7 linked regions of the Homo sapiens genome follow. The protein of the gene in region 1 purifies or fractionates together with the protein of each later gene. This does not show direct contact. Each region holds a gene or a part of one and is shown in the gene's direction. Other genes may lie near its edges. The genes, in order: ADGRG5, GRAMD1A, TMX4, ALG9, TMEM59, ASPHD2 and LSR.

Region 1 (4,102 bases):
AGCTTTTTTTTAGAAATTCATTTTTTTAACTGCTGAGAATTGTATTTCAGAGTGTAAAGGTATCACCATTTAACCATTTTCACCCACTTTGAGGCTATCATGAATAAAGCTGCTATGACTCTTCATATACAGGTTTTTGTGTGAACACGAGGTTTCATTTCTCTGGGATAAAAGCCCAAGAGTGCAATTATTGGGTCATATGATAGGTACATGTTTAGTTTTATAAGAAACTGTCGAACTGTTTTCCAGAATGGCATTGGAGTGTAATTTATTTATTCCTCTATTGATAGACATTCACATAGCTTTCAACTTTTCTTTATTAACAATACTATTCTAAATATTCTTGTATGTGTATAATCCTGGCTTGCCCTATTCTTTCCATAGGATAAATTCATAAGAATGAGTTTCCTGGCTTAAAGGATATTCAGAACGTAAAGTTCGAATGTGTTGCTAAGCCGTCCCCTTGCAGATGAGGCTCAGATCTTAGACAGAGAGTGCAGGAATGTGCCTGTCCCTACAGACTCACTGGGTGCTATCATATTTCAGATCTTTGCAGATCCAATGGTGGAAAAATGAGAACTCATGTTCTTAACTACTTTCCTCTGCCACTACCATCAAACACATATTTTGAGTTTTGTGGCTCTCCCTCTTGAAGCCTTGCAAGTTTTTGTTGACTTCCTTTCTCTAAGAGGAGGATCATCAGTTCTCTTGCCCTCCCTCCCCTATTTCCTCTTCTTCATCCTCTTAATATGTTTTTTGATTGGATTTCTAAAGTCTTGTCTATAGAGGTATACATACAATAAAATTCACCCTTTTGGAGAGGAGTTTTTGCATTTTGACAGATGTGTACAGTCATGTATACATGTATATTACAATCAAAATATAGAACATTGCTGTCCCCTGAAAAGTTGTCTCAGGCCCTTTTGTAGTTAATATCTTTTCCCTACTCCCTGGCAACTACTGATTTGTTCTCTGATCCAATAGTTTTGACTTTTCTAGATTCCACTTCCATGTTACATTCCCTCCAGAAATGAATGAGGCTTCCAGCTGTTCTATATCCTCATAATACTTTGTATTACCATTTTAATCCTAGTCATTCTAGAAGGTGTGTAGTGATATCTGATTGTGGTTTTTATATGCATTTCTCTAATGACTAATGATATTGAGTGTTTCTCATGTGCTTATTTGCATCTATACATTTTTTTTTTTAACATGTAGTTCCAGCTCTGTCACCCAGGCTGAAATGCAGTGGCATGATCTCAGCTCACTGCAGCCTCCTCCTCCTGGGTTGAAGCAATTCTCCTGCCTTAGACTCTTGAGCAGCTAGGATTACAGGCACATGCTACCACACCTGGCTAATTGTTGTATTTTTAGTAGAGACAGGGGTTTCACCATGTTGGCCAGGCTGGTTTCAAACTCCTGACCTTGGGTGACCCACCCGCCTCGGCCTCCCAAAGTGCTGGGATTACAGGCATGAGCCACCGCGCCCGGCCCATCTATATACATCTTCATTGGTATAGTGATTGTTCAAATCTTTTCCTATATTTATTGGGTTGTTTGTCCTCTTATTAGTTGTGTAAGAGTTCTTTATGTAGTCCAGATACAATTTTTTAAAAACATCAGATATGTGTTTGTAAATATTTTCTCCCAGTCTGTGGCTTATCTTCTCGTTTTGCTAACCATGACTTTCAAAAAGCAGAAGTTTTAATTTTGATGAAATTCAACTTATCAGTTTTTTGTTGTTGTTGTTGCCATGGATCACGTTTTTGGTGTTGTTTCTAAGAAATCTTTGCATAACCTAAGTCAGAAGGATTTTCTTTTTTGTTTTTTCCAAGGAGTTTTACAGGCATATCTTGGAGATATTGTGGGTTTGGTTTTAGACCACCACAGTAAAGCAAATATGGTAATAAAGTGAGTCACACAAATTGTTTGGTTTCCCAGTGCATATAAAAGTGATGCTTACGGCCAGGCACGGTGGCTCATGTCTGTAATCCCAGCACTTTGGGAGGCCGAGGCGGGCGGATCATGAGGTCAGGAGATCGAGACCATCCTGGCCAACATGGTGAAACCCCATCTCTACTAAAAATACAAAAATTAGCCGAGCATGGTGGTGTGTGCCTGTAATCCCATCTACTTGGGAGGCTGAGGCAGGAGAATCACTTGAACCTGTGAGGTGGAGGCGGAGGTTGCAGTGAGCTGAGATCGCACCACTGCATTCCAGCCTGGGCAACAGAGCGAGACTGTCTCACACATGAAAAAAGTTATGTTTACATTATACTGTAGTCTATTTAGTGTACAAAAGCATTATGTCTAAAAATGTACATACCTTAGTTAAAGGACACTTTATTGCTAAAAAGTACTAGCAATCTATCTGAGCCTTCAACAAATCACACGCTTTTTTGCTGGTGGAAAGTCTTGCCTTGATGCTGATCAAGGTGGTGGTGGTTGAAGGTTGGGGTGGCTGGCTGTTTCTTAAGACAGCAGTGAAGTTTGCCACATCAGTTGACTCTTCCTTTCATAAGATGTTTTTCTGTAGCATGTGATGCTGTTTGATAGTATTTTACTCACGGTAGAGCTTCATTCAAAATTGGAGTCCGTCCTCTCAAACCCTGCAGGGGCTTTATCCACTACATTTATTTAATATTCTAAATCTTTTGTTGTCATTTCCACAGTGTTCACCATATCTTCACCAGGAGTAGATTCCATTTCAAAAAACCACTCATTGTTCATCTATGAGAAGCGACTCCCCATCCATTCAAGTTTGATCATGAGACTGCAGCAATTCAGTCACATCTTCAGGATCCACTACTAATTCTAGTTCTCTTGCTATTCTAATCACATCTGTAATTACTTTCCCCACTGAAGTTTTGAACCCCTCAAAGTCGTCCATGAAGCATGGAATCAACCTCTTCCAAACTCCTGTTAATGTTGATATTTTGACTTCTTCCCATGAATCACAATCACATGTTCTTGCAGCATCTAGAAGGGTGAATCTTTTCCAGATTTTCAATTTACTTTGCCCTGATCCATCAGAGAAATCACTATCTATGACAGCTATAGCCTTATGAAATTTGTTTCCTAAATAATAAGACTTGAAGGTCGAAATGACTCCTTGATCCATGGGCTGCAGAATGGATGTTGTGTTAGCAGCACGAGAACAACATTGATCTCCTTGTGCATCTCCATCAGAGCTCTTGGGTGACTAGGTACATTGTCGATGAGCAGAAATATTTTGAAATAAATCTTTTTTTTTTTTTGAGTAGTAGGTCTTAACAGTGGGTTTAAAATATTCAGGAAACTATGCTATAAATAGATTGCTATCATCCAGGCTTTGTTATTCCATTTGTAGAGCACAGGCAGAATAGATTTAGCATAACTCTTAAGAGACCTAGGATTTTCAGGATGTTAAATGAGTATTGGCTTCCATTGAAAGTCACCAGCTGCATTACCCGCTAACAAGGGAGTTAGCCTGTCCTTTGAAGCTTTGAAACCAGGCATTGATTTCTTCTCTCTGGCTATGAAACTCTTAGATGGCATCCGCTTCCAATATGAGGCTCTTTCATCTACACTGAAATTCTGTTGTTTAATGTGGCCACCCTCATGCATGATGTTAGCTAGTTCTTGTGGATAACTTGCTTCTCCATCAGCACTTGCTGTTTCACTTTGTACTGCTATGTCATGGAGATGGCTTTTTTCCTGAAACCTCATGAACCAACCTCTGCTAGCTTCCACGTTTTTTCAGCTTCCTCACCCACCTTGGCCTTCATAGAATTGAAGAGTTAGGGCCTTGCTCTGAACTAGGCTTTGGCTTAAGGGAACGTTGGCCGGGGGCTGGTTTGATCTTCTATCCAGATCACTGAAGCTTTCTCCATATCAGCAATAAGGTTGTTTTGCTTCATGTGTTCACTGGAGTAGCACTTTAAATTTTCTTTAAGAGCTTTTCCTTTGCATTCATAACTTTGTGAACTGTTCGGTGCAGGATGCCTCGCTTTTGGCTTATCTGGGTTTTCACGTGTCTTCCTCACTGAGCTTAAAATTTCTAGCTTTTGATTTAAAATGAGAGATGTGTGACTCTTTCTTCTACTTGAACACTTAAGAGGCC
Region 2 (4,102 bases), on another chromosome or scaffold:
AAACAAACAAACAAAAAACAAGTTAAAAAATTAGCCAGACATGGTGGAGATTTCAGTGAGCCATGATCACACCGTTGCACTTCAGCCTGGGCGACAGAGCAAGACCCTGTCTCAAAAAAAAAAAAAAAAAAAAAAAGGTGAACCAGATGTGGCTCATGGTGAAGACTTGACTTTACCTGGAGTGAGGTGCAACCAGGCCAGGGCTCTGAGCCAGGAGGGCGCTGACCTGACTCAGGTGGTCCCAGGCTCCTTCTGGCTCCCTCTGTTCTGGTGGGAACAGACTGCAAAGACAGGTACAGGAGCAGGGAGGCCAGGGAGGAGGCTGCTGGGACATCCAGGCTGGAGGGGACGGAGGCTGAATCAGGGTGAGGAAATGGAGGGGGAAGAGTTTAGATTCTGGAGAGATTTTGCAGGTTTAGCTGACAGGATTTGCTGAGAGATTGGATGTGGCGGTGAGGGAAAGAGAGCTCAAGGAATATCCCGAGGCATTTGGCCCAAATCACTACAACTTCGGAGCTGCCCTTGACCCAGATGGGGGCGGCAGGGAGGAATGGGTTTGGGGAAAGACCAGGAGGTCAGTTTGGGACTCAGCTGTCTATGTTGAGCTGAGCCCATGTGGAGCTGGGGTGCAGCAGCCGAATGGAAGAGGTTCAGGGGCATGGTCTGGTTAAGACGTCAGTCTGTGAGTAGACAGGGCTCAGGCCGCCGGGAGCGTTGCCCAGGTAGTGGGCATGGGTGGAGAAGGACCGAGGGCTGAGTTGGCTGGCATTTGGGCTGGGCGGGTGGTGTATGGGGTATCCAGGGAAGCCATGGGGGGTAGGGAACCCATCTGTTTTGTCTGTGAGTGACAAGGGGCCCTCTCTGAATTAGGGGAAGGAAAAAACTCAGCTTGTGGGACGGGGCAGCCAGGGCTGGAGTCAGACCCTTACCTCCTTCCCCTGATCTCCCAACCCCAGAGTGTCTTCTGAGATCCGCTACCGAAAGCAGCCGTGGAGCCTGGTGAAGTCGCTCATTGAGAAGAACTCGTGGAGCGGCATTGAAGACTATTTCCACCATCTGGGTAGGGACAGAAGGCCGGCTGGGGCGTGGGTTGGGGGATGGCCTGGCCAGGTATGGACATCCAGAGCCCCCTCTCTTTTACGCAGAGCGAGAGCTCGCCAAGGCTGAGAAGCTGTCTCTGGAGGAAGGCGGGAAGGATGCCCGGGGCTTGCTATCCGGCCTGCGGCGGCGGAAGCGGCCCCTGAGCTGGCGGGCTCACGGGGACGGGCCCCAGCACCCAGATCCTGACCCCTGTGCCCGGGCCGGCATTCACACCTCGGGTACGTTCCGTTGGGGCCGGGTTGGGGTAGGCGGAGGATCGGGGGTCCTGGACTGGGCCATCTGACTCCAAGCTGCTCTCCTGCAGGCTCCCTCAGCTCCCGCTTCTCCGAACCATCTGTGGACCAGGGCCCCGGGGCAGGCATCCCCAGTGCCCTGGTTCTCATCAGCATTGTGTGAGTAAGAGACAGGAGCAGTGGCCACACAGGCCTGAACCTGCCTCCTGGCTGTGTGACCTTGGGCAAGTGTGTGGCCTCTTTGAGCTCTCTGCTTAAGTGGGAGCGTGGGTTTGCTCACAGCAAGGATTAGACAAGGCAATGTTTGGGATGTGCCGGTTTGTCATGGAGAAGCCTTCCCTGCTAGAACAGCAGAGCCGGGGGGGGCTATGGGAGATCAGAGGGGCCTGACCTCACCCAAGGATCAAGGGGGGCTTTCTGGAGGAGCAGGCACACAAAGATTCTGGAATTAGGTGCACAGGGAGAGGTGTGCCTAACAAGTGAGGTCATTTATGGACATTATGTTCTCTGTGCCCACTCCTAAGCTGGGCGATGCTGAGGACACCGCAGTGACCTTGAGGAAAAGATAGACCTCACACCAGACCAGAGTGATCCGGGCTGGGATGGGGGAGGTATGGGCAGAGGGGTTGGGGCTGGGAGTGGGGAAGCCCTGGGAGGCCAGCGGCGGCTTCCTCCCAGGCCAGAGGGGGCAGTCAGGATGGGCGTCCTGAGAGAGTGGAGACCGCGTAGGCTAAGGGCTTGGGCAGGGAGAACCCACACTCCTGCCCAGAAGCCTGCAGGAGTTGGCGGGCAGGACGCTGGGAGGAAACAGAAGCAGGATCCCGGGGTTGAGCAGACCCTGCGAGGTGAGGGTCAGGCCAGCTACATGCTCAGCCTCTGAGCCTCAGCTCTCAGCTCTCATCCAGTGAGGGGGCGTGGTGCTCTCAGCCAAGAGCTGCCCCGGGTGAGGAGGGCTGGGGGTGTCGGGGGCAGGCCAGGCGGCGCTCATCTCTCTGTCTCCCCTCACTGCTGCTGCTGCAGGATCTGTGTGAGGTAGGGTCCCGAGTCCTCCCCCTGCCCTCCCCTCCCTGCACCCCACCCCTGCTGCAGCCTCTTCTCCCCACCCCATGCCCCCCAGCTCCCCCAGGGAGGTGGCCTGGCATGGCAGTCAAGGGTATGGGCATCAGACAGACCTGGGTTTGAACACTGACTTCCCTGCTATGGACTGTGCAACCCTAGGCATGTCTCTCATCCTCTCTGAGCCTAATTCTCCTCCTCTGCAATGGGGGATAGAGGTGTCCCTACAAGATGTAGTTGTTTGGGGGTGTTCAGAGCATCTAGACCCCAGGAATCCTGACCTCTGACCCCTGTCCCCAGCCTTATCATCCTCATCGCCCTCAACGTCCTGCTCTTCTACCGCCTCTGGTCCCTGGAAAGGACAGCCCACACCTTTGAGTCCTGGCACAGCCTGGCCCTGGCCAAGGGGTGAGTGGGTAGCCTGGGGAAATGGGGGGGCTTGGGCACATCGGGGGAGGCCAAGGCCCTGCTCAGGCCTGGCATCCCCACAGCAAGTTCCCCCAGACGGCCACAGAGTGGGCCGAGATCCTGGCGCTGCAGAAGCAATTCCACAGCGTGGAGGTGCACAAGTGGAGGCAGATCCTGCGGGCCTCCGTGGAGCTCCTGGATGAGGTAGGAGGCGCCGCTCGGGCAGGGCTCGGGGCTGCGGGGCTGCAGGGTCCTGTGTTGAAACCCCACCGTGCGGCAGGCACTTCCCCTCTCCGGATCTCAGTGTCCTCCTCTGTAAAATGAGGAAGCCGCTCAGAGTCCCCACCCCACAGCATTGCAGGGGAAAGCATGGAAGCATGGATGGAAGACAGAACTGATTGGCTCACGTCCTGGAGAAAAGTCCAGAGGCGTCTCACATTAGGCACGGCCGGGTTTGGTCACTCAATGGCAGTAAGAGTCAGTCTCTCGTGCCCACTCTGCCCTGTGCCCATCTCCAGGGTTGGCTTCATTGGAGGCCACCCTTTTCCCCCCACAGGGGACCACGGAGCTTACTCTCATTGGCTGCTGGGGTCCCAGGCCTACCCCTGACACATCACAACAGCCAGGGCAGGCCACGTGTGGTCCCTCTACCCGCTACCCCACTCTGGGGTAACTAAGGGGTCACATGGTCTGAAGGGGAGAGACTCTCCAAAGGACCTGAGGTCTCATCTCCAAAACGGAGTGGACCCAGACACCCAGTGTAGTTCAGGGACAATGTCTACTCAGACAACCAGGTTCCAATTCCGGTGTGTGACCTCGTGCAAGTGATTTTGCCATGGTGGCCGTGGACTCCTCTGTGCACAGGATAATGACTGATGCTACCTCAAAGACTGTTGTGAGGATGAGACAAGTTGACATTGGGAGTGGTGCCAGGCCTGCAGGAAACACTGGATGTGGGCTGGCTGTCCTGAGTTTGAGCCTAGTGCCAGGGACAAAGCAGATGCCCAATAAATGTGATGTCATCACACGACAATTCCCTCAGGCCCCAGTAGACTCAGGCCAGCAGTTGCGGTGGGTCAGAGCAAGTGTCAGGCCAGCAGTTGCGGTGGGTCAGAGCAAGTGTCAGGCCAGCAGTTGTGGTGGGTCAGAGCAAGTGTTAGGCACTCGGGGAAGGTGTCGAGGGGGAAAGCGGATGGGAAACAGAGTCTGGCATTGCCTGCATTTCCAAGGCCATCAGAGCTGAAGTTGTGGGTGACGGTGAAAATCTTGTCTCATTGGACCCTTCCATATCAGAAGGCTCATCT
Region 3 (4,102 bases), on another chromosome or scaffold:
ATTTAGCACACCTAATGAAATCTTAAACCAAATTCAGTAAGTTCATGGAATAAAAGATTCAAGGTCCTTCAACCTCGTTCCATCAACAAAACACGGACAACATGGACAACAAAAACATTCTGTTGAACAAAAAACGTGGACAACAAAAACATGCTGTTGAATTTTGTTTCCCAGAAATGGTTAAAAACATTGCACTGACATGTAAGTTGGTGTAATTTACCAGAGCTTTTTGGCTATCTGGAATATATTTCAAATATGTTTATGAAGTTTACTAATTTTACATACCACTGTGACCTGCAAACAAGTCAACAAAAGTTCAGTAGAAAAGATAACAATTTACAGTTTAAATGACTATAATGGAGCTAATTGCTCTTGGAGGCTCTTAAGGATTATGTGTAAGAGACAAAGTTATGGCAGGTCATATCTTTTATAGTTCTTAGGAGAAGATTGCCAGTGTGAACTAGTTTGAAATAAATTTAATGAAGATCATGTTCAATTATTTCTGATGTGTTTAATTTATGCATATATACATAAATTATATATATATGTATCTATGTGTACACAGAGTGAGAGAGGAGCATGAAGGTCACATGACTGATCCTTGCATTCATTTTGTCCCTGGAGATATTTTACTTAGTTTCTAAATTCTTATACAAATTACTGTTCTTTAGATACAAAAGAATATTAAAAACTTTAAAAACTGCAGCAACAATGGACCAGTTCCCATGCTAAAGACTCAGAGCTGGCTTATCTCTACCACTGAAAGAACATCTGGGTGCATTCCAACACAAATCAGCTGTGATTAAATCTGTGAAATAATGGCATTAACAATGCCACAGACCAGTGTATAGCAGCTATGTAGAAATGGCATATCTAAAATTACCTCAGTGGCATATCCGAGGATGCATTATAATTGTATATCTGAAGGTCAGTTTCACCAAAAACCAACTTAGTAATAGCCTATCTAGAGATTAAGTCCTGTATTTTTTAAATTATGAAACATAATTACTGATGCAGCAAATGTGCCTGTGATTTATATGCAAAGAGCGTCCTAGGGAAATAAAGAGGATCTGAAGTTCATTATATTATATTATACTTCAAGATAACTTCCTTATTCTTGTTACTTTCTTATAACTTCTTTCTCCCTCTGAATGTTGAAGTTTTATATTCCTTGACGATTTTTATCAAAGAAATACCTCCATCTGTGTTCTTGCTCTGAGTGGTCTTAAGCACATCTCTATACCTGCTTTGTCTGTTTGGCAGTGAGGCTGTAAGGTCAGATGAGCTAATGCATCGTAAAAGTGTCTTGAACCCCAAGCAGTATTACAAATGAAATTTGTATTAATGGTTGCTCCTATTAAATAAATATGTGCCTGCTTCGTATTTCATCTGATCTCTCAGTAACCTAAGGTAGCTACTGTTATTATCCCATTTTACAGTTGAGGAAACTGAGGCATGGAGAGATTATTAACCTGCCCAGAATATCATGATTAATTCCTGGTTGATCTTTCTGATTGTTATAGCAGAACTCTTATCCAACATCATGGAACGCTTGTTGAAATGTACTTGATAATTCAGAATTCCTTTTTTTCCTAAAGTTTGCCAACTGCCTGAGTCTCATCTGTTAACTTGGATATTTAGAAACTACATAGAAAATAACTTATTTTCTCAGATGAAGAATATGATTTTCATTAAAGTTGATACACTTGTTTATTCAGCAAACATTTATTGAACACCTACTGTATATCAAGAATGTACTTTGCCTTGGAAATACAGAGACACGAAGGTTTAAAAAAATCTACATTCAAAGATGTCAGCAGATTATTTTGTTGTTCCTGTCTTCTGGATCTCAGGATTTGGACAGTGAGCTGTAATGGAAAGATTAATGATGTTTTAGCATGATCTTGGAATTAGCTATATAGTAGTCTTTTCTAGAGATGGTGAACAACTGTGCTTGCTAAGTCTTGCTGCTTCTGGGGCCTGTCTGGAGAAAGTAATGAATGCTTTGGCTTTGGGTAGTCCATTCTCTTCTGGGTTCTGCCTAATTTTCAGTACTTTTTGTGAAATAAATGCATTCCTTCCCCTAGTCTTCGCTTTTTAACCCCTGACTCATCTTTTATAATGCGAAAGATCAAAATCTTGCCCAATTTCAGTTTTTGTTTTTTGTTTTGTTATTCAGCAAAGTTGGTTTATATGTGTCATTGCATTGATTTTTTTTTTTAATGATACTTACCAGCATGCTTTTGCACAGTTCAGAATTTTGAAGGGATTTGTAAATGATGACCTGACAGGCAACTTTGAGCCTAAATCTTGTTACAGGATTTGATCAGTTTTGTACTTTTCCCCTTACTTTGTTTCCCTTCCTAAGGCATTTTGTGTGTGTGAGTGTTATATTCTATTGGCAGGCATTCTTTTCTACTTCTCTTTCTCTCCCCTGGCCCCTTTCCTCCCTTAATACAGAAATAATAGGTGCCACATTTTGTAAAAACAATTCAGGAATGGAACAAATGAAAAATAAATTGGAGGGAATTGGCATTTTAAAAATGCTCAGCCTGCTTACCCACAAGTTGGTATATTTCTCTATTTATTCAAGACTTTATTATGAAAAATTTTAAACAGACGCAAAAATAAGAATAATATGATGTTTGCCCCCCATGCTTATCTCTGTTCATTTCTGGATTGTACCGTCCACAAGGAGAGGAGGCACCAAATCTCCTTCACAATTGTAGCCTCAGCTTCTGCCATAATGCTTTCTTAGTATTTATTGAATGAAAAATAACTGTAAAAAGTAGGGTTCTGACTTGAAAGCCAAGGTATTTTTAAATTCTGCTAAATTTAAGAAAGTGTTGGGTAGAGCGGGTTTAGCCTATAGCTTCTACTTTCCTTTTCAGAATGTTCAGAATTACCACAGATCTTGGAAACATTCTTGAGGATGCTCAAACAACAGATTTGGTCTCTGCCCATCAGATCTGTAGCTTTGATGGATTTGAAACTGGTTTGGCTAGTTTAGGGTCACCCTGTGAAAATTGTTCTCCTTTAGTGGGGCACTAAAAAGAGCTCTTACCCTCAAAGATCAAAAGCTATCTGGAGAGAAACATAATTGTATGAATAGCATTGAAATAAAATGTTTATGGATAATAATAATTATTGGAAATATTCTCAAACTTTGGCCAAATTTTTTCCTATAGAATTGACATTCATACATTAAATCCTAGTGGGGACAATGTGCTTCTGTTTTTCTATGTCAAATGACTTTGGAAAAGCCTCCTTTTATAATTTCCCTTTTTTAATAATTTATTTTTTAATTTAAATACTCGATTTCTCTGTTTTGCAGATTTCTTCTGTATATTTATCAATATAATTCTTATTCTTCTCTTATAGTTACGCCCCATGGTGTCCATCCTGCCAGCAGACTGATTCAGAATGGGAGGCTTTTGCAAAGAATGGTGAAATACTTCAGATCAGTGTGGGGAAGGTAGATGTCATTCAAGAACCAGGTACTGTGAATGTTGCACATAAAATGCAAAAGTTTACCGACTTTTTATTTTGAATTTTTTTCAAGCATATAGAAAAGTTGAGAGTCTGGGATATTGATTACCCATGAACTGGCCACCTTTAAGTAGCAGATTACATTTTTTGCATACTTGGATCTGTCTTTACGTGTATGTGTTTGCACATACATATTTGCATATATATTTCTATTTTTTCTATTTTTATTTTGCTGAATCATTTGAAAGTAAGTTATCGACATCATGATAATTTACCCTTCAATTCTTTAGCACGTTAAAGGCTTCTTAATTATTTCCCATGTGTCTTTTTTTTTTTTTTTTTTTTTACAGTTTTTTGACTGAGGATCCAATCATGGTTCATAAATTACATTTGGTTGTTAAGTCTTTTTAGTCTCTTGCAATCAACAATTATCCCTCATTTTTTAAAATGACATTGATATTCTGAAAAGAAAAAGCTACAGTTTTCCTAGGTGTTTCCTTATGGTGACATGGAACTTATAGGAATATTAACTTATACGAGTATTTTCTGCAAACTGAGAGTTTAGGTGCATGATTTAGCTTAGACATTTATGGCAAGAGTACTTCTAAGATGA
Region 4 (3,489 bases), on another chromosome or scaffold:
TGCAGCCACACAGGATCCAAATATCAGTACTATTCCTGTAGTCAATCTGGGGTCACATTATAGGTGCCTTATTTCCCTAAGGGTAACTGATCTGAATATCTGCAAATAGGATGAATCTATTTTTCAGAAGTTCCATCTTTCATTTTTCTTTTTTTTTTTGAGACAGAGTCTCATTCTGTCGCCCATGCTGGAGTGCAGTGGCGCGATCTCGGCTCGCTGCAACCTCTGCCTCCCAGGTTGAAGCAATTCTCATGCCTCAGCCACCCGAGTAGCTGGGATTACAGGCATGCGCCATCATGCCCAGCTAATTTATGTATTTTTAGTAGAGTTGGAGTTTCACCATGTTGGCCAGGCTGGTCTTGGACTCCTGACCTCAGGTCATCCACCCGCCTCAGCCTCCCAAAGTGCTGGTATTACAGGCGTGAGCCACCGCACCCAGCCCCATCTTTCATTTTCAAAGAGAAGGGCATTCTAATAGGAACTGGTGCCAAGAGAGAAGAAAAGAAGTGATAACAGAAGAAATGGCTAGTTACAATATTAAAAAGCTCCTCTTTGAGATCTCCTCTGCAGGAATATCAGAGACGGAGTTGAAGCGCTGGAGAGGTAATAGGTCTAGACAGTACAGAACAATAACTGGGGAGTGTGTGAGGATAGACTGGGCTCCCCCTTGCTTGAAAGATCTCTGGCATTTAATTCTCAATTCTTGATTACTATTTTCCAGTGTAAAACTAGCACATATGATCTGACTACAGGACAGAGAATTTTAAGTGAAACATTTGCCTTACTTGCAGTAATAATGTGCTGTTCTTCACAGTAGCTAAGGCCCTCTATGTTTCCCAGAGGTAAATAAGAATCCAGGAATGGAGGTCCATCTGTGATGAATGGCTTTTTTCTAATCAAAGTAGTATAATGCTGTTTTATCTGTTTTGTCATCTTGTTTTTTTTTTTTTTTAAAAAAACAAAACCTTAATTATAATATAGCGCAAAGAAAGGCCAGGACTGATGCAGGGATTCCTTGGAAATATCAGTTCCTATCACTTTTAAAACCTGATTTTGGATCTCTCTGTTCTATGTATGTCTTTAGTGAGAGCACAATACATGGCAGAACGCTGTGCCAAATGTTATAGGTAAGGAATATAGAAATGAATGTTTTTTGTTGTGAAGGTGTTTTCATGTGATATTTTATAAACACATTTTAAAAAATCTCCATCACTTTTTAGTATAGGAAGGATAGCTTTGCCTGGGAAAAACAGTTTCAACACACCTGCTCAGAGTAGCAGTTCTCCCTCAAAAAAGCAGTGTTCAGCCTGCACTGACTGTTCTGCTTGCCAAAAGGAGGAAGCATGCAAGATACTTATTTCTCCATAGATTGTGGAGTATAGAGGGATGTGGGACTACAGATTATTATTTTTTTTCCCCGAGACAGAGTCTTGCTCTGTCGCCCAGGTTGGAACACAATGGCACGACCTCAGCTCACTGCAACCTCTGTCTCCCGGGTTCAAGCAATTCTCCTGCTTCAGCCTCCTGAGTAGCTGGGATTACAGGCACACACCACCACCGCACTCAGCTAATTTTTGTATTTTTAGTAGAGGTGGGGTTTTACCATGTTGGCCAGGCTGGTCTTAAACTCCTGACCTTGTAATCATCCCGCCTCGGCCTCCTAAAGTGCTAGGATTACAGGCATGAGCCACCGCACCCGGCCCAGATAATTTTTAATAGCCTTTGATCATGGGGTGAGTGAGGGAGTAGGTATACTTGGCAAATGCATGGTTCTCTGATTTCTAGCTCTAAAGCAGCCTTATCTGAATCCCCAAATCTTGTGATGCTGAGTACCATTACTGAACCAGTCTGCACGGTAGGCATCTGCTACCAAAATTTACCTCCTACCTGGTAGGTGTCATCTGATAAGAAAGAAGACAGGTTATTTTAATTTTTTGAGATAATCACAGAAAATTGCAGCCCATACTCTTTATTACCGAATTCAAGTTTGGAAATAGACCCTTTGTTTTAAATCATGATGGGTCTTTATCCCAATCATTTATCTGGGTCATTTTTCCAACTTTGGAGTTCTAGGAAAGAACCTTGAAAACCTGATATGATTCTGCAGCATGAGGTCTACGGTGACCATTTGGGCAAAGCTCCAGTGGCAATCATTTATTGTGTTTTGCATTTCCTGGGATTTATTGAAATAAGAATTCACTGTGATTATGTAGTCTTCTGGCTAGTATCAGGCAGCTCTGCTTTTAATTTGGTTAATTTTATTTTCTCTGAAGAGGGAGAAGAGGTACAATTTAATCTTGGCCTCCACAAGCATATTAAAGCTCACGTGTTAATCAGTGCATTCTTATGCTCCTACATTAAATGCCTTGGGTAAATGGATAAATGGACATGTGCCCAGCTTTAATTTTTTTTGCAACAGAAAGATCAGACTTCCGTATGGCATCGTTGGATTTCAGAGGCTTTCTGGTGTATCTGTAAATCTGAATGTTGCCTTCTGCCAGTCTGTATAACCAGGTGATTCATGCTGCAAATGAAATCAGGAAGCAGTAAAGTGTTAAAGCAAGAGTATTGTCCAATTCACTTGTCTTCCTGATCCTTGTACTTTATTTCACGTGTCGGTGTTTACATTACATACTTATATTTCCTGTGAAAGAAAGAGTTAAATAAATTGTAGCAGTTTGATTTTCTTTTTCTTAATGTGACATTTTCTCTTTTGCTTTTAAATCTTTCTTGGAAATTGGAAACTGAAGGAGCTCAAGTCCTTTCTCCCTGACTCCAGCCCTATTCCTCAGTGTGGAGACCTGCCTTCTACAGGCCAAATATCCCAGAATGTTTATTCTGAAAACTTTAGAAGAAGACTTTGGGAAACCCAGTGAGGATTAGTTTTATTTTAACTATGTTAAAACCACGCACAGTAGGAATTAATATATGGGCCAGGCGTAGTGGCTCACGCCTGTTATCACAGCACTGTGGGATGCCGAGACGGGTGGATCATTTGAGGTCAGGAGTTCGAGACCAGCCTGACCAACATGGTGAAACCACGTCTCTACTAAAAATACAAAATAGCTGGGCGTAGTGGCGCATGCCTGTAATCCCAGCTACTTGGGAGGCTGAGGCAGGAGAATCACTTGAACCTGGGAGGTGGAGGTTGCAGTGAGCCAAGATTGCACCATTCCACTCCAGCCTGGGCAACAAGAGTGAGACTCCATCTAAAAAAAAAATAATAAAAAATGAATAAAAATTAAAAGGAATTACTCAATACATGAACATTGTACCTAAAAGAGATGAAGTCCTGGATCCATCTTAAGTTTTTGGAATGAGAATCACTGGACTGTGAGAGTCTAATTTTCTTAGAAATCCTAATCCAGTTATATCTAACACTTAGGTAATTTCCCCCTTTGTTGGGGTTGTCAGAAGGAATAAATTTTTTTTAATTTTTATATTTTAGAAATGGCATGTGTTACATTGTTCAGGCTGGCCTTAAACAAC
Region 5 (4,242 bases), on another chromosome or scaffold:
GGTACACTTTGAGGAGGAGGCATAACAAGAAATAATTCATAGGTCTTTCCACAACAGAACCTCTAGCACCACCTTGCTATCAGTCCTTTGCACATTTCCTCTAGCCCCAGATCCCCTCTCACCTTCAGAGATTCAATCGTGGCCTGCTTGTAAACCTTTCCTCCAGAATCTTTCTTCTGAGGGCTATTCTGGATTCTAGGCGTTCGAATGACGAATTTATCCATTGTTAGGGGACTCCGACTACCTTGACGTGCTTGCAGCGTGTTCTGGTCAAGAAAGAGGGCAGATTCTAAAACCCCACTAAAGACTGCCATGATATTTTTTCCCCAAAGTAACACAATTGAGTTCTCTGGAAGAATTCATGAATTATGGGGCCTCGAGTGGAATTGACAGGAAGTAAGATTTTCTCTTTAAAAGAAAGATCTTCCGAAGAATTGAAACTGTAATCAATCATCAGTCTACGTCCTGAGTTAGGAGGTTCCTAGCTTCCAGAAGTGCACGCTCTAGCGAGGATTCCAACATTGGGGGAATTGGCCCAATATTGGAATCCCCGCTAGAGCGTGCACCTAAGCCCTCTTCCAAATAAGATTGGGCTGTGAAAGGGTTAGGATTACATTAGGCTCAGTGACGCCCTCTTAACAACCACCTCACCACAGCCATAATCCCAAGGGTTGCCCTGGTAATCAGCAACCGACAACCACCTCCAGAACTCAGCAGAGGGTCTCACAATACGCAGCATCCCCTAGAACAAACTGCTCGGTGGTCAGAGGACCCTACCCACGGCTGTAATCTCTGGATCCCCGAACAAGGAGAAACCCCATCCTCCTCGTTCCCAGCACTCAGGAGCCCGGGTAGGGGCACCCAACAACGGTCTGACGTGAGACCCACCAGGAAAAGCAGCCCTGGTAGCTGCTGTTGGCGCCCTCCAGACTGCAACCTCGTAGGCTCCCAAGCCCAGTCGTCTGTGTTGAAACTAAACAGACGCTTCCTCCCAGGGCGGTAGTTCCTCTGAAGAAACTCCGCCGGCCCTCGCGCCTCTGGGCCACAGCGAACCACATTCCCCAGAATGCACTGCGAAGAAATGCGGGCGGAAGGCGCGCTGAGGGCGGCTGTAGTTTTCCGAGACCAACTTTCCCGACAGCACCGTGCGCCTCCCGCCTACGGAGAACTACATGCCCCAGCCTGCCCCGCGAAGGGAAGAAGTCAGGAGGCCCCGCTTCGCGCTAACGCTTGCGATGGTTGAATTCCCCTCCTCACGCCAGCCTAGGAGAAGAAGTTCGTAGTCCCAGAGGTGAGGCAGGAGGCGGCAGTTTCTGGCGGGTGAGGGCGGAGCTGAAGTGACAGCGGAGGCGGAAGCAACGGTCGGTGGGGCGGAGAAGGGGGCTGGCCCCAGGAGGAGGAGGAAACCCTTCCGAGAAAACAGCAACAAGCTGAGCTGCTGTGACAGAGGGGAACAAGATGGCGGCGCCGAAGGGGAGCCTCTGGGTGAGGACCCAACTGGGGCTCCCGCCGCTGCTGCTGCTGACCATGGCCTTGGCCGGAGGTTCGGGGACCGCTTCGGCTGAAGCATTTGACTCGGTCTTGGGTGATACGGCGTCTTGCCACCGGGCCTGTCAGTTGACCTACCCCTTGCACACCTACCCTAAGGTAGGGCCCGTCCGGAGCGGGCTGCGACCCTTCCCTTGCAGCCCATTTCTCGGCTCCCCACACGTATGTCGGCTCTGGCAACCTGGCTGTTAAATCGGCCCTTCAATCGCTGTCTCCCATCTGTGTAGCTCCTGTTTTCCTCCCTAATCCTGCCTGCACCCCATTTCTGCTGTCATTACCGGAAGTTTGTCCTGCACTACCCTGTGATAGGCTGGGGGACACAAAGATGAGAAAGACGCGATCCCTTTCCTCTGGGAGCTTGCCGGGCTGCAGGGGAGTCGAGCACTCGGAGGAGGATAGGGGAGGATATGGATGATTAATGCGGGGTCCTCACCTAAGGGAGCGTAAGGGGGGATTGTAGAAAGGGAGGCGCAGATACGCGAGTCCACAAATGATTGATTGATAACCCTTGTTTACTAAGCGCCTCTCGGGGCCAGGAGCGCAGTCTTCGGGGAGTCAGACAAGTAGACGATTCCACTGTGGTATAAAAAGCGTCACGAAGGCAGCTCAGGGAGTAGCGAGACGCTCAGGAATGCTGTCTGCCTATGTTGAGTTACTGTGTCCAAGACGCTGCCAAGAGGGACTGGGTTAGAGAAGAGGCAATTAGGTGTCTGCCTACCAGAAACTGACCACTCAGTGCAGAAAACGGGGAATTCGTGGAGTGGGTGAAGAAATGAGACTGTGGACAGGAGGGGGTTCGCAGCTTACAGAGAGGAATGGCCCTCCTCTCTATGCTTCCCCCCTTTCTTTTAATTACATACCTAACCCTCTTCACGTTGGTTTTTCAGCCTAAGAACTCTGTTTACTCAACATTCTAAATTGCTTGATGATTCCCACCACACCTTTCCCATGTATGATTTGAGTATATGCCCTCCCCCACGTTGTTTTATGAGAGCTTTTGTTGATGTTGCTGGTGGTTTCCTCTTCGTTTTTCCTTCATCTCCTCTATGCTATTTGCTTAACCATTGTGGCTGGACCTCCTTGCTCTCTAAAACTGGAGTGGCTACGGAGACAGTTCCAGTGAAGCTTAGGATGTTCCATATTGGCGAGTATTTTCAGGTCTTTGAAATGAAAAGTTCTAAGTGCCGGCACTTCTCAGATTTTGTTACGGCTGGATTTTAAACTGCATGGAGATTATCAATTTTCAAAAAAAAGTGTGGGAGAAGGGACTGTACTAAATTTTTCCAGAGATTTATGTAACAATCGAGAAAGAAGTGAGAAGTTTTAACTTCAGACTTAAATCAATGAATACTGCTTCTAACCACGTTATTTTTCTCCACCTCTTGTAAACTTCTCATCATTAAGAGGATTGTATGAAGAAGCTCATTAATATTGATTTGGCCTGGAATTGGGTTGAGACTTACTTTCTATTGTTCTAGGGTTTGTTTCCTTTTTTGGGATTTTCTCGGCAATTTTGTGGTATAAACCAGAATGTTGGGAAAATAATCAAATAATTTGAAAGGATACCTTCCTGGAAGTTGTAGGTACTTTAATAATGTCCACTATTTTCTAACAATTGGTGTTATATCTATAAACTATTTTTACTTATTTATTAAAGCTTTTCTCACAAAGAACTCCAAATCATCTGGCTCCCTATAGGTCCTGGACTTGAAATTTATATAGACTCCACTGTTAGCCAGAGTGATGGGAGATTTATCATACCATTATCCCTAATTCTCACAACAACCCTGTAAAGTAGGGTTTTAAAATTAAGGAAATTGAGGCTCTGAAAGGTTAAGTGACTTGCCTAAGGTCACATACCCAAGAAATAGTGGAGCAGGAATTCAGCTTAAAACTGGCTACACTATGCTGCCTCCTATTAATAAACTTGCATTAAACATATTCGGCCGGGTGCGATGGCTCACGCTTGTAATCCCAGCACTTTGGGAGGCCGAGGTGGGTGGATCACCTCAGCTCAGGAGATTGAGACCAGCCTGGACAACATGGCAAGACCCCGTCTCTGGAAAAAAGAAAAACAAAAAAACTAGCCAGGCATGGAGACGAGCACCTGTAGTCCCAGCTACTCGGTGGGAGGCTTGCTTGAGCCTGGGAGGCGCAGGTCGCAGTGAGCCGAAATGTCGCCAGTGCACGCCAGTCTGAGAATGAGACCGTGTCTCAAAAAAATAAAAATAAAAAAATGCCGGGCGCGGTGGCTCACTCCTGTAATCCCAGCACTTTGGGAAGCTGAGGCGGGTGGATCACCTCAGGTCAGGAGTTCAAGACCAGCCTGGCCAACATGGTGAAACCCTGTCTCTACTAAAAATACAAAAAAATTTAGCCAGTCGTGGTGGCGGGCGCCTGTAATCCCAGCTACTCAGGAGGCTGAGGCAGGAGAAGCGCCTGAACCCGGGAGACAGAGGTTGCAGTGAGCCCGCGCCACCGCACTCCAGCCTGGGCGACAAGAGGGAAACTCTGCATCAAAAAAAAAAAAAAGAAACATATTTAATTATGTCACTGATTTCTATTGGCTCTCCTCTGTGCTTTGTGCTCCAGGAAAAAGCACTGTGTATTGTAAGAAATTAGATGAATTTTCAAACTCACATAGCGTTTGAAAAACGAGATAGAAATCTCGTTTTAGGCTGGGCGCGGTGGCTC
Region 6 (3,730 bases), on another chromosome or scaffold:
CTCAATCTAATCAAGTTGAAACTCAGTATTAACTATCAGACATGTTAACTACAAGAAAATCAGCAATCAGGCCAGGCACAGTGGCTCAAGCCTGTAATCCCAGCACTTTGGGAGGCCGAGTCAGGTGGATCTCTTGAGGCTAGAAGTTCGAGACCAGCCTGGCCAACATGGTGAAGCCCCATCTCTACTAAAAATACAAAAATTAGCTGGGCACGGTAGTGCACACTTGTAATCCCAGCTACTCGGGAGGCTGAGGCAGGAGAATTGCTTGAACCCAAGAGGCAGAGGCTGCAGTGAGCTGAGATCATGGCACTGCACTCCAGCCTGGGCGACAGAGCACGATTCTGTCTCAAAAAAAATAATAATAAATAAAGAAAAATCGAAAACTCCACAATCACTTTAATTCCTCTGTTAATAGTATAACAACTAGCATTTATATCATCATGTCCAGTTTTATAACAGCCTGTTCTTTGGAGTCAGGCTGACTCAGCAACACTAAATGGTAACTTTTTAGCAGGTCATTTAACTTCTTAGTTACCCCATCTGGAAAGTGGGTGAAGTGATACCTGTTAAGTGTGTATTTAGCACAAAGCTGAGTAGGAAGACACAGTAGGTCTTCAGTTATTGGTAACAAGGATAGAAGTCCCATAGCAGCCCTGGAAGGTTCAGTATGCTAATGTCCCCTCTTTACAGGTGAGGGTATGGCTCAGAGAGGCTGAGTGACTTGCCCAAAGTCACACAGCACATAAGAGTCACAACCAGTCGTCTGTCCCCAAGTCCTCCGTCCTTCTGTCTCCTCCATGTGGCCTCTTTATTTGAATTATTACTGTGAACGTACTTCCTGGAACCATTATTTCTGGTTCAAAGAATACATTAAAATACTCTGGCTGCTGGAAGGAAAGCTATTTCATTTTTATGCTAAAGGACATTAAATCAGAGGGGAATGCCAACTGGCCCAGGGTCATTGTGGTCACAGTGAGTCACTGAAGACAGATGAGACCACCACCCATCCCAGCTCCTCTTCCAGGACTCTGCTTCCCCCTGGGTGGGCCTTCCTGAGAGCTGTTGGGCTGACCCAACCCCTTCTGAAATCATTAGATGGCCACGGTGGCCCCTTCTTTTCTGGACATCAAGGTAGTGATGGGGGCCAAGTGTTTCTGCAGACCCTTGTGTTGGAAAGGGCGACTGAGGGTCACACATGGCAGTGTTCCAACCGGACCCCACTGGCCGGTTGAAGCATACGGCTTATTTTTTATTTTTTATTTTTATTTTTGAGACAGAGTCTCACTCTGTTGCCCAGGCTGGAGTGCAGTGGTGCGATTCGCCCAGGCTGGAGTGCGGTGATGCAATCTCGGCTCACTGCAACCTTCGCCTCCTGGGTTCAAGCAATTCTCATGCCTCAGCCTCCCGAGTAGCTGGGATTACAGGCGTCTGCCACCATGCCTGGCTCATTTTGGATAATTAGTAGAGAGAGGGTTTCACCATGTTTGAGACCAGGCTGGTCTCGAACTCTTGGCCTCACGCGATCTGCCCACCCCTCAGCCTCCCAAAGTGCTGGGATTACAGGTGTGAGCCACTGTGCCCAGCCAAGCATACGGCTTCTTACAAAGCTGCCAGTCTATTTCCTCTTGAACCTAAGCCATTACCTTAGAAGTGTCCTCCAGTTTCCCAGAATGAGGGCAGACGAAGAGCACGCCATTCTCCAGCCTCAAAACGGATTAAAAGGCTAGAACCCAAGGAGGAGAACACTGTGTGAGCCTTTGATTTTTTAATCGCAACTGAGATAGTCCTAGAGGGGAGACTACAGTAAACACAGTTACTGGGTAAGGCAAGGTTCTAAACCCAACCTCCCTGGATTTCTGGGGGTCCCCTGGTTAGGCTTCAGAGTGTAGTGCAAATGTCAGTCTGTGACTTTCATAAAAGGAATCCATGACCCAGAATAGATGAAGCCAATGAAGGAATGAATTTTTGCCAAGAGTGCAGTGAAGATCTAGATGGTGGCTTATAAACAACAAAAATGTAGAACTCACAGTTCTGAGGCTGGAAGCCCAAGATCAAGGTGCCAGCAGATTTGGCGTCTGGTGAAGGCCTGCTTCTTGTTCATAAATGACACCTTCTCACTGTGACTTCACATGGTGAAAGGAGGTGGCCAGGAGCAGTGGCTCTTGCCTGTAATCCCAACACTTTGGGAGGCCAAGGTGGGAGGATAGCTTGAGGCCAGGAGTTCGAGACCAGCCCGGTCAACATAGCAAGACCCCATCTTTACAAAAAAAAGTTTAAATTAGCTGGGCATGATGGTGCACACCTATAGTCTCAGCTACTCAAGAGGGTGAGGCTGGAGCATCTCTAGAGCCTAGGAGGTGAAGGCTGCAGTGAACTATGGTGGAGCCACTGCATTTCAGCCTGGGCAACAGAACAAGACCTTGTATCTAAAAAAAAAAAAAAAAAAAAAAGATGTCAGGCCAGGTGCTGTGGCTCATGCCTGTAATCCCAGCACTTTGGGAGGCTGAGGCAAGCAAATCTCTTGAGGTCAGGAGTTCGAGATCAGCTTGGCCAACATGGTGGAACCCCATTTCTATTAAAAATACAAAAATTCGGCCAGGTGCAGTGGCTCACGCCTGTAATCCCAGCACTTTGGGAGGCTGAGGCGGGTGGACACGAGGTCAGGAGTTCAAGACCCGCCTGGCCAAGATGGTGAAACCCCATCTCTACTAAAAATACAAAAATTAGCCTGGCACAGTGGCAGGTGCCTGTAATCCCAGCTACTCGGGAGGCTGAGGCAGGAGAATCGCTTGAACCCAGGTGGCAGAGGTTCCAGTGAGCCAGGATCGCGCCACTGCACTCCAGCCTGGGCGACAGAGTGAGACTCTGTCTCAAACAAAACAAACAAAAAAATTAGCCGGGTGAGGTGGTGGGTGCCTGTAAGCTACTCCAGTGCCTCCCAGCTACTCCGGAGGCTGAGGTAGGAGTATCATTTGAACCTGGGAGGTGGAGGTTGCGGTGAGCCGAGATCACACCACTGCATTCCAGCCTGGGCAACAGAGAGAGACTCCATTTCAAAAAAAAAAAAAAAAAAAGGGAAAAGAAAAAAAGATGCAAAAGGAGGTAAAGAAGCTCCCTTGGGCCTGTTTTATAAGGATGCTGCTCCCATTAGGACCCCACCTTCATGATCTGATCACTTTCCAAAGGCCCCACCTCCTAACACCATCACCTTGGGGTCAGGTTTCAACATGGGAATTTGCAGGGACACAAGCCCACAAGCCTTCAGACCATAGCACGGGCTCCAGAGGTGTGAGGCAGGTCAGGTGCTTTAGAAGTCAAAAACTCTCAGTAAGGCAAATCACCCCCTATCTCCTGGCCTTCCCTGAATCTTGCCTGCCTTCACTCTCCTTTCTCTGGTTTTCCTACAAGGTCTGAAAACTCCAAATGGCTGTGAGCTGGTGGTGGGGGGAGAGCCCCAGTGCTGGGCAGAAGGGCGCTGCCTTCTCTTTGATGACTCTTTCCTGCATGCTGCGTTCCATGAAGGTGAGTGGCTGCCTTTCCCACTTCCTTTTTTTCAATGAATAGACTTTTATTTTTTTAGAGAAGTTTTAGGTTTCCAGAAAAATCAGGCAGAAAGTACCAAGGAGGCCCCTTCATATCACCCCATAACACATATACACACACAGTATTGATGCGTTATTATTACCTAAAGTTCATGGTTGACATTAAGGTTCACTCTTGGTGTTGT
Region 7 (4,102 bases), on another chromosome or scaffold:
AGCTGCAGTGACCCATGATCGCACCACTGCACTCCAGCCTGGGCGACCAAGCTAGGCCCTCTCAAAAAAGATACAGGTGGAAAAATGATGGACGAAGAGGGCATTGTGGCAAACCTGGGGATTTAGGAGAACCTAGTTTGGAATTCTATGAGGATTCAATGAAAGAATGTGTGTAGAGGGGCCCAGCACATAGTAAGAGCTCAATAAACGGTGGGGGCTAGGGGCGGTGGCTCATGCCTGTAATCCCAGCACTTTGGGAGGCTGAGGCAGGTGGATCACTTGAGCCCTGGAGTTCAAGATCAACCTGGACAACAAAGCAAGATCCCATCTCAAAATTAAAAAACAACACCAACAACAAAAAAACAGTGGCTTAGATGCCTGATCATTAGGGTAAGTCGTGTCCTCAACCCCTTCACATCTGCTCTGAAGGTCACCATATCCGGAAGCCTTCCCTGGCCTCCTTGTTTAAAATGGCACAGCCCCCACTCCACGCCTGGCACTCTCTGCTGTCCCTGATTCGTTTTCTCCATACAGCTTATCTTTGTCTGATATGTGACATAGTTAACATTTTATATTTGTCTTTCTTTCCTAGTTAGAATCTGAACTCTAGAAGGGCAAGGGCAAGGATTTATAACTCAAAGGTTCCGGGCTTAGGCCTCTTTTATATTCTTGATTTTGAGGTTAATTAAGAGCTCAGGCCTAGCGAGGTGGCTCATGCCTGGAATCCCAGCACTTTGGGAGGCCCAGGCGGGCAGATCACTTGAGGTCAGGAGTTCCAGACCTGCCTGGCCAACACAGTGAAAAACCTGTCTCTACTAAAAATACAAAAATTAGCCAGTTATGTTGGCAGGCGCCTATAATCCCAGCTACTCAAGAGGCTGAGGCAGGAGAATCGCTTGAACCCAGGAGGCAGAGGCTGCAGTGAGCCAAGATCGTGCCACTGCACTCCAGCCTGGGCAACAGAGCGAGACTCCATCTCAAAAAAAAAAAAAAAATTAAGAGCTCAAAGAGTTTGTTTTCATAGGCAGCAGAATGAGAAAAGTTTACAAAATAGTTTAAATGACAATAAAGTCATTATAGATTAACATAAATAAAATACCTTTTATGAAAAAAATAATCATTTTCTGAAATCAGACAAAACATTGTGAATGAGAAGGTGGCATGGTTTTATTTTTTTGCAAGTCTCCGAAGCCTGGCTGGATAGAAGAGCCTGGCTTCTCAGAGCTGCTTCAGTCTGTTGTGATATCTATTGTATGTCACGTAGCCTCTGGAAAACTCCACAGTTAGTATTGTTGGGAAAATAACTTTGACCTCAGGATCTCCTGAAAACGTCTTGGGGAACCCCAGGGTCTAGAGGCTGCAGTTTGAGAACTGTTGCTGTGGTATCCCAGGTGTCTCAAATACTGCCTAGAACATAGGTGGTACTCAGTAATTATTGTTGAAGGATGAATGAATGAATGAATGAATGAATGAATGAAAGAAAGAAAGAAATGTGTCTTTGAATCCAGCCATGTGCCCAGAATGATGAGACAGATGACAAAAGCTAAGGGACTTTAGCATGAGGAGAGGGGGTTCGTTTCCTTTTTTTTCTTTTTTTTTTGAGATGGAGTCTCACTCTACTGCCCAGGCTAGAGTGCAGTGGTGCAATCTCAGCTCACTGCAATCTCTGCCTCCTGAGTTCAAGCAATTCTCCTGCCTCAGCCTCCAGGGTAGCTGGGACTACAGGTGCGTGCCACCATGCCTAGCTAATTTTTTACATTTTTGGTAGAGATGGGGTTTTACCATGTTGGCCGGGCTGGTCTGGAACTCCTGACCTCAAGTGATCCACCTGCCTCAGCCTCCCAAAGTGTTAGGATTACAGGTGTGAGCCACCATGTCCGGCCAAGAGGGTGTTCATTTCTGCTCCTTGCCAGGTATTGTGTCAGGCACTGGGGACCCAGCAGTGGCTGAGACAGACAGGGCTCTGCCTCACGGAGCCCACATTTTCACCAGGCAAAGGATGGTCGGCCCCTAAGCTGGGAGATAAGACTTCAGCAGTTGGGTGGGGGAGCCGTGGGAGAAGCCCAGCCCACAGGGGGACAGTGCAAATCTAGAACCAAGGCGATGGCAGGGGTGAGGCTGGCACGGTAGCTAGAGACCACGTCGTGCCAAGGGCCTTGGGGACCATGGGACTATGGGACCTTAGGGAAGGCGTCTGGAATGCTGTAGCCAGACACTGTTGCAAGGAGGATTTTTCTGTAGACATGAGGCCTTCCTTATGAAGAAAGCAAGGGTTCTTTCATTCCTGGGGGTGCCAGGTGCTGTGGACTGCAGCACGCGTGGTTGCTGCCGTCACAGAGCTGTCATGCAGGAGGGCAGCGCGTCCTTGGGAAGGTGGCAGGCAGGTCAGGCTAGGAGGAAAGAGGCCGGGAAGCTGAGGGCATTTCCTGCCCGAGATGCCCAATGTAGCCTACTTCTGTCCCCAGTGGCTTAAGGCAGAGTTGCCTGGTAGGTGCCCTGGTCCCACCCTGGTGAAAGGCTGAAGGTATTTAATTAGTGCCTGAGAAGCAGAGAGGAAACAGGATGTGCCAAAACACTTTGATGGATGGTAGAGTTAACAGGCTCCTTGCCTGCAGCTGCTTCAGACAAGAGCGTCCCCAAGCCCTGGGCCTGACCTGGAATGTGGGGATGGAAGGGGAGGGGGAGGAACCAAGGCACTGGGAGGGTAAGTCTCTCTCTCCCACATAGACACACCCACTCCTTATGGGTGCCTGGGCATCTCCTGGTACCTAGAATCTGGCCTGTTTATCTCCACACCCATCCCTGGGGTCTACACTAGGCCCTGTGGGTGGCAGTTCACATCAGGGGAGTTCTGACTTTGGCTCTGAGAGGTGGTTCAGAGATGGCTGTAAGTTGAGAAGCACAGACTGCTGGGTGTGGTGGTTCACGCCTGTAATCCCAGCACTTTGGGAGGCTGAGGTGGGGGTGGATCACCTGAGGTCTGGAGTTCAAAACCAACTTGGTCAACATGGCGAAACTCCATCTCTACTAAAAATGCAAAAATTAGCCAGGTGTGGTGGCAGGTGCCTATAATCCCAGCTACATGGGAGGCTGAGGCAGGAGAATTGCTTGAATCTGGGAGGCGAAGATTGTAGTGAGCCGAGATTAGTTCGCACCATTGCATGCCAGCCTGGGCAACAAGAGTGAAACTCCGATTCAAACAAAAAAAAAAAAAAGCTGGGCATGGTGGAGTGCCTGTAGTCCTAACTACTCAGGTGGGAGGATTGCTTGAGTCCAGGAGGTTGAAGTTGCAGTGGGCTATAATTACACCACTGCACTCCAGCCAGGGCCACAGAGTGAGACCCTGTCTCTAAAGAAAGAAAAAAAAAAACAACCTCAGGCTCCGAGGGCACCATTACTGCTCTATACTGAAGAGCTGTGCAGCTTTTCCAGACCCGAAATGTCATCCACAAAACAGAAGTGATAATGGTCCTGCCTCACAGACTTCTTGCAGTAGTCCAGGTGTTTAGAACGGGGTGTAAAAGGCCGTGTGCCCTTGGTAGGAATCTTTGCATATGCATTTGATCATCTGCAGCCTGCCCAGCCCACTGCTTGCCCCCTCCTGGGTGTGCTGGGAAGGGGTCTTTGGCCCTCCAGGGGTTAGGTGCCCCAGCCTCCAAGGTGCCCTCACGCCTTTTCATCCCGACTCAGATGCTGACCTGACCTTTGACCAGACGGCGTGGGGGGACAGTGGTGTGTATTACTGCTCCGTGGTCTCAGCCCAGGACCTCCAGGGGAACAATGAGGCCTACGCAGAGCTCATCGTCCTTGGTGAGTGGGCCTGGGAAGGGGGAGGCATGGCCCTTCCTTTTGTCCGCTTCTGTTCTGTCTGCCCTCCCCTGTGTCCGCCCTCTGCCCTCCAGCTTACCCTCTGGGCTCTGTCGCCTGCTCTGCTCTCCCCCAGGCTCTGCCAGTCACTTAGGCTCCCCTGTGCCCTGCACCCCAGGCAGGGACCACTGGCCCACAGTGCCTCCAATCACCCAAGCCAAACTAAGAGAAGAGTGGAGACAATTGGAGACTCTGCCTTTTCAAAGTCTCATTTTTAAAAAAAATCCAGACTTGG

Evidence for each region.
Region 2: the proteins of ADGRG5 (region 1) and GRAMD1A purify together in Homo sapiens (co-immunoprecipitation; 3 studies listed by BioGRID and IntAct, with this or other methods). This does not show direct contact.
Region 3: the proteins of ADGRG5 (region 1) and TMX4 purify together in Homo sapiens (co-immunoprecipitation; 3 studies listed by BioGRID and IntAct, with this or other methods). This does not show direct contact.
Region 4: the proteins of ADGRG5 (region 1) and ALG9 purify together in Homo sapiens (co-immunoprecipitation; 3 studies listed by BioGRID and IntAct, with this or other methods). This does not show direct contact.
Region 5: the proteins of ADGRG5 (region 1) and TMEM59 purify together in Homo sapiens (co-immunoprecipitation; 2 studies listed by BioGRID and IntAct, with this or other methods). This does not show direct contact.
Region 6: the proteins of ADGRG5 (region 1) and ASPHD2 purify together in Homo sapiens (affinity purification with mass spectrometry; 2 studies listed by BioGRID and IntAct, with this or other methods). This does not show direct contact.
Region 7: the proteins of ADGRG5 (region 1) and LSR purify together in Homo sapiens (co-immunoprecipitation; 3 studies listed by BioGRID and IntAct, with this or other methods). This does not show direct contact.

What each region holds. Positions count from the first base shown.
Region 1 is NC_000016.10:57,548,785-57,552,886, forward strand, and holds part of ADGRG5 (adhesion G-protein coupled receptor G5 isoform 1 precursor), read left to right. Parts: intron 1-4,102. UniProt on the Homo sapiens protein: Orphan adhesion G-protein coupled receptor (aGPCR). Ligand binding causes a conformation change that triggers signaling via guanine nucleotide-binding proteins (G proteins) and modulates the activity of downstream effectors, such as adenylate cyclase.
Region 2 is NC_000019.10:35,020,546-35,024,647, forward strand, and holds part of GRAMD1A (protein Aster-A), read left to right. Parts: intron 1-956; coding exon 957-1,060; intron 1,061-1,145; coding exon 1,146-1,319; intron 1,320-1,405; coding exon 1,406-1,493; intron 1,494-2,354; coding exon 2,355-2,366; intron 2,367-2,690; coding exon 2,691-2,798; intron 2,799-2,881; coding exon 2,882-3,002; intron 3,003-3,151; coding exon of another isoform or gene 3,152-3,196; exon of another isoform or gene 3,197-3,240; intron 3,241-4,102. UniProt on the Homo sapiens protein: Cholesterol transporter that mediates non-vesicular transport of cholesterol from the plasma membrane (PM) to the endoplasmic reticulum (ER).
Region 3 is NC_000020.11:8,009,595-8,013,696, reverse strand, and holds part of TMX4 (thioredoxin-related transmembrane protein 4 precursor), read left to right. Parts: intron 1-3,381; coding exon 3,382-3,497; intron 3,498-4,102.
Region 4 is NC_000011.10:111,781,388-111,784,876, reverse strand, and holds the end of ALG9 (alpha-1,2-mannosyltransferase ALG9), read left to right. Parts: 3' UTR 1-2,682; downstream 2,683-3,489. UniProt on the Homo sapiens protein: Mannosyltransferase that operates in the biosynthetic pathway of dolichol-linked oligosaccharides, the glycan precursors employed in protein asparagine (N)-glycosylation.
Region 5 is NC_000001.11:54,050,405-54,054,646, reverse strand, and holds the start of TMEM59 (transmembrane protein 59 isoform 2 precursor), read left to right. Parts: upstream 1-1,442; 5' UTR 1,443-1,458; coding exon 1,459-1,647; intron 1,648-4,242. Other genes in the region: TCEANC2 (transcription elongation factor A N-terminal and central domain-containing protein 2), read right to left, coding at 123-224.
Region 6 is NC_000022.11:26,439,048-26,442,777, forward strand, and holds part of ASPHD2 (aspartate beta-hydroxylase domain-containing protein 2), read left to right. Parts: intron 1-3,411; coding exon 3,412-3,525; intron 3,526-3,730. UniProt on the Homo sapiens protein: May function as 2-oxoglutarate-dependent dioxygenase.
Region 7 is NC_000019.10:35,255,255-35,259,356, forward strand, and holds part of LSR (lipolysis-stimulated lipoprotein receptor isoform 2 precursor), read left to right. Parts: intron 1-3,690; coding exon 3,691-3,810; intron 3,811-3,816; exon of another isoform or gene 3,817-4,102. UniProt on the Homo sapiens protein: Probable role in the clearance of triglyceride-rich lipoprotein from blood. Binds chylomicrons, LDL and VLDL in presence of free fatty acids and allows their subsequent uptake in the cells.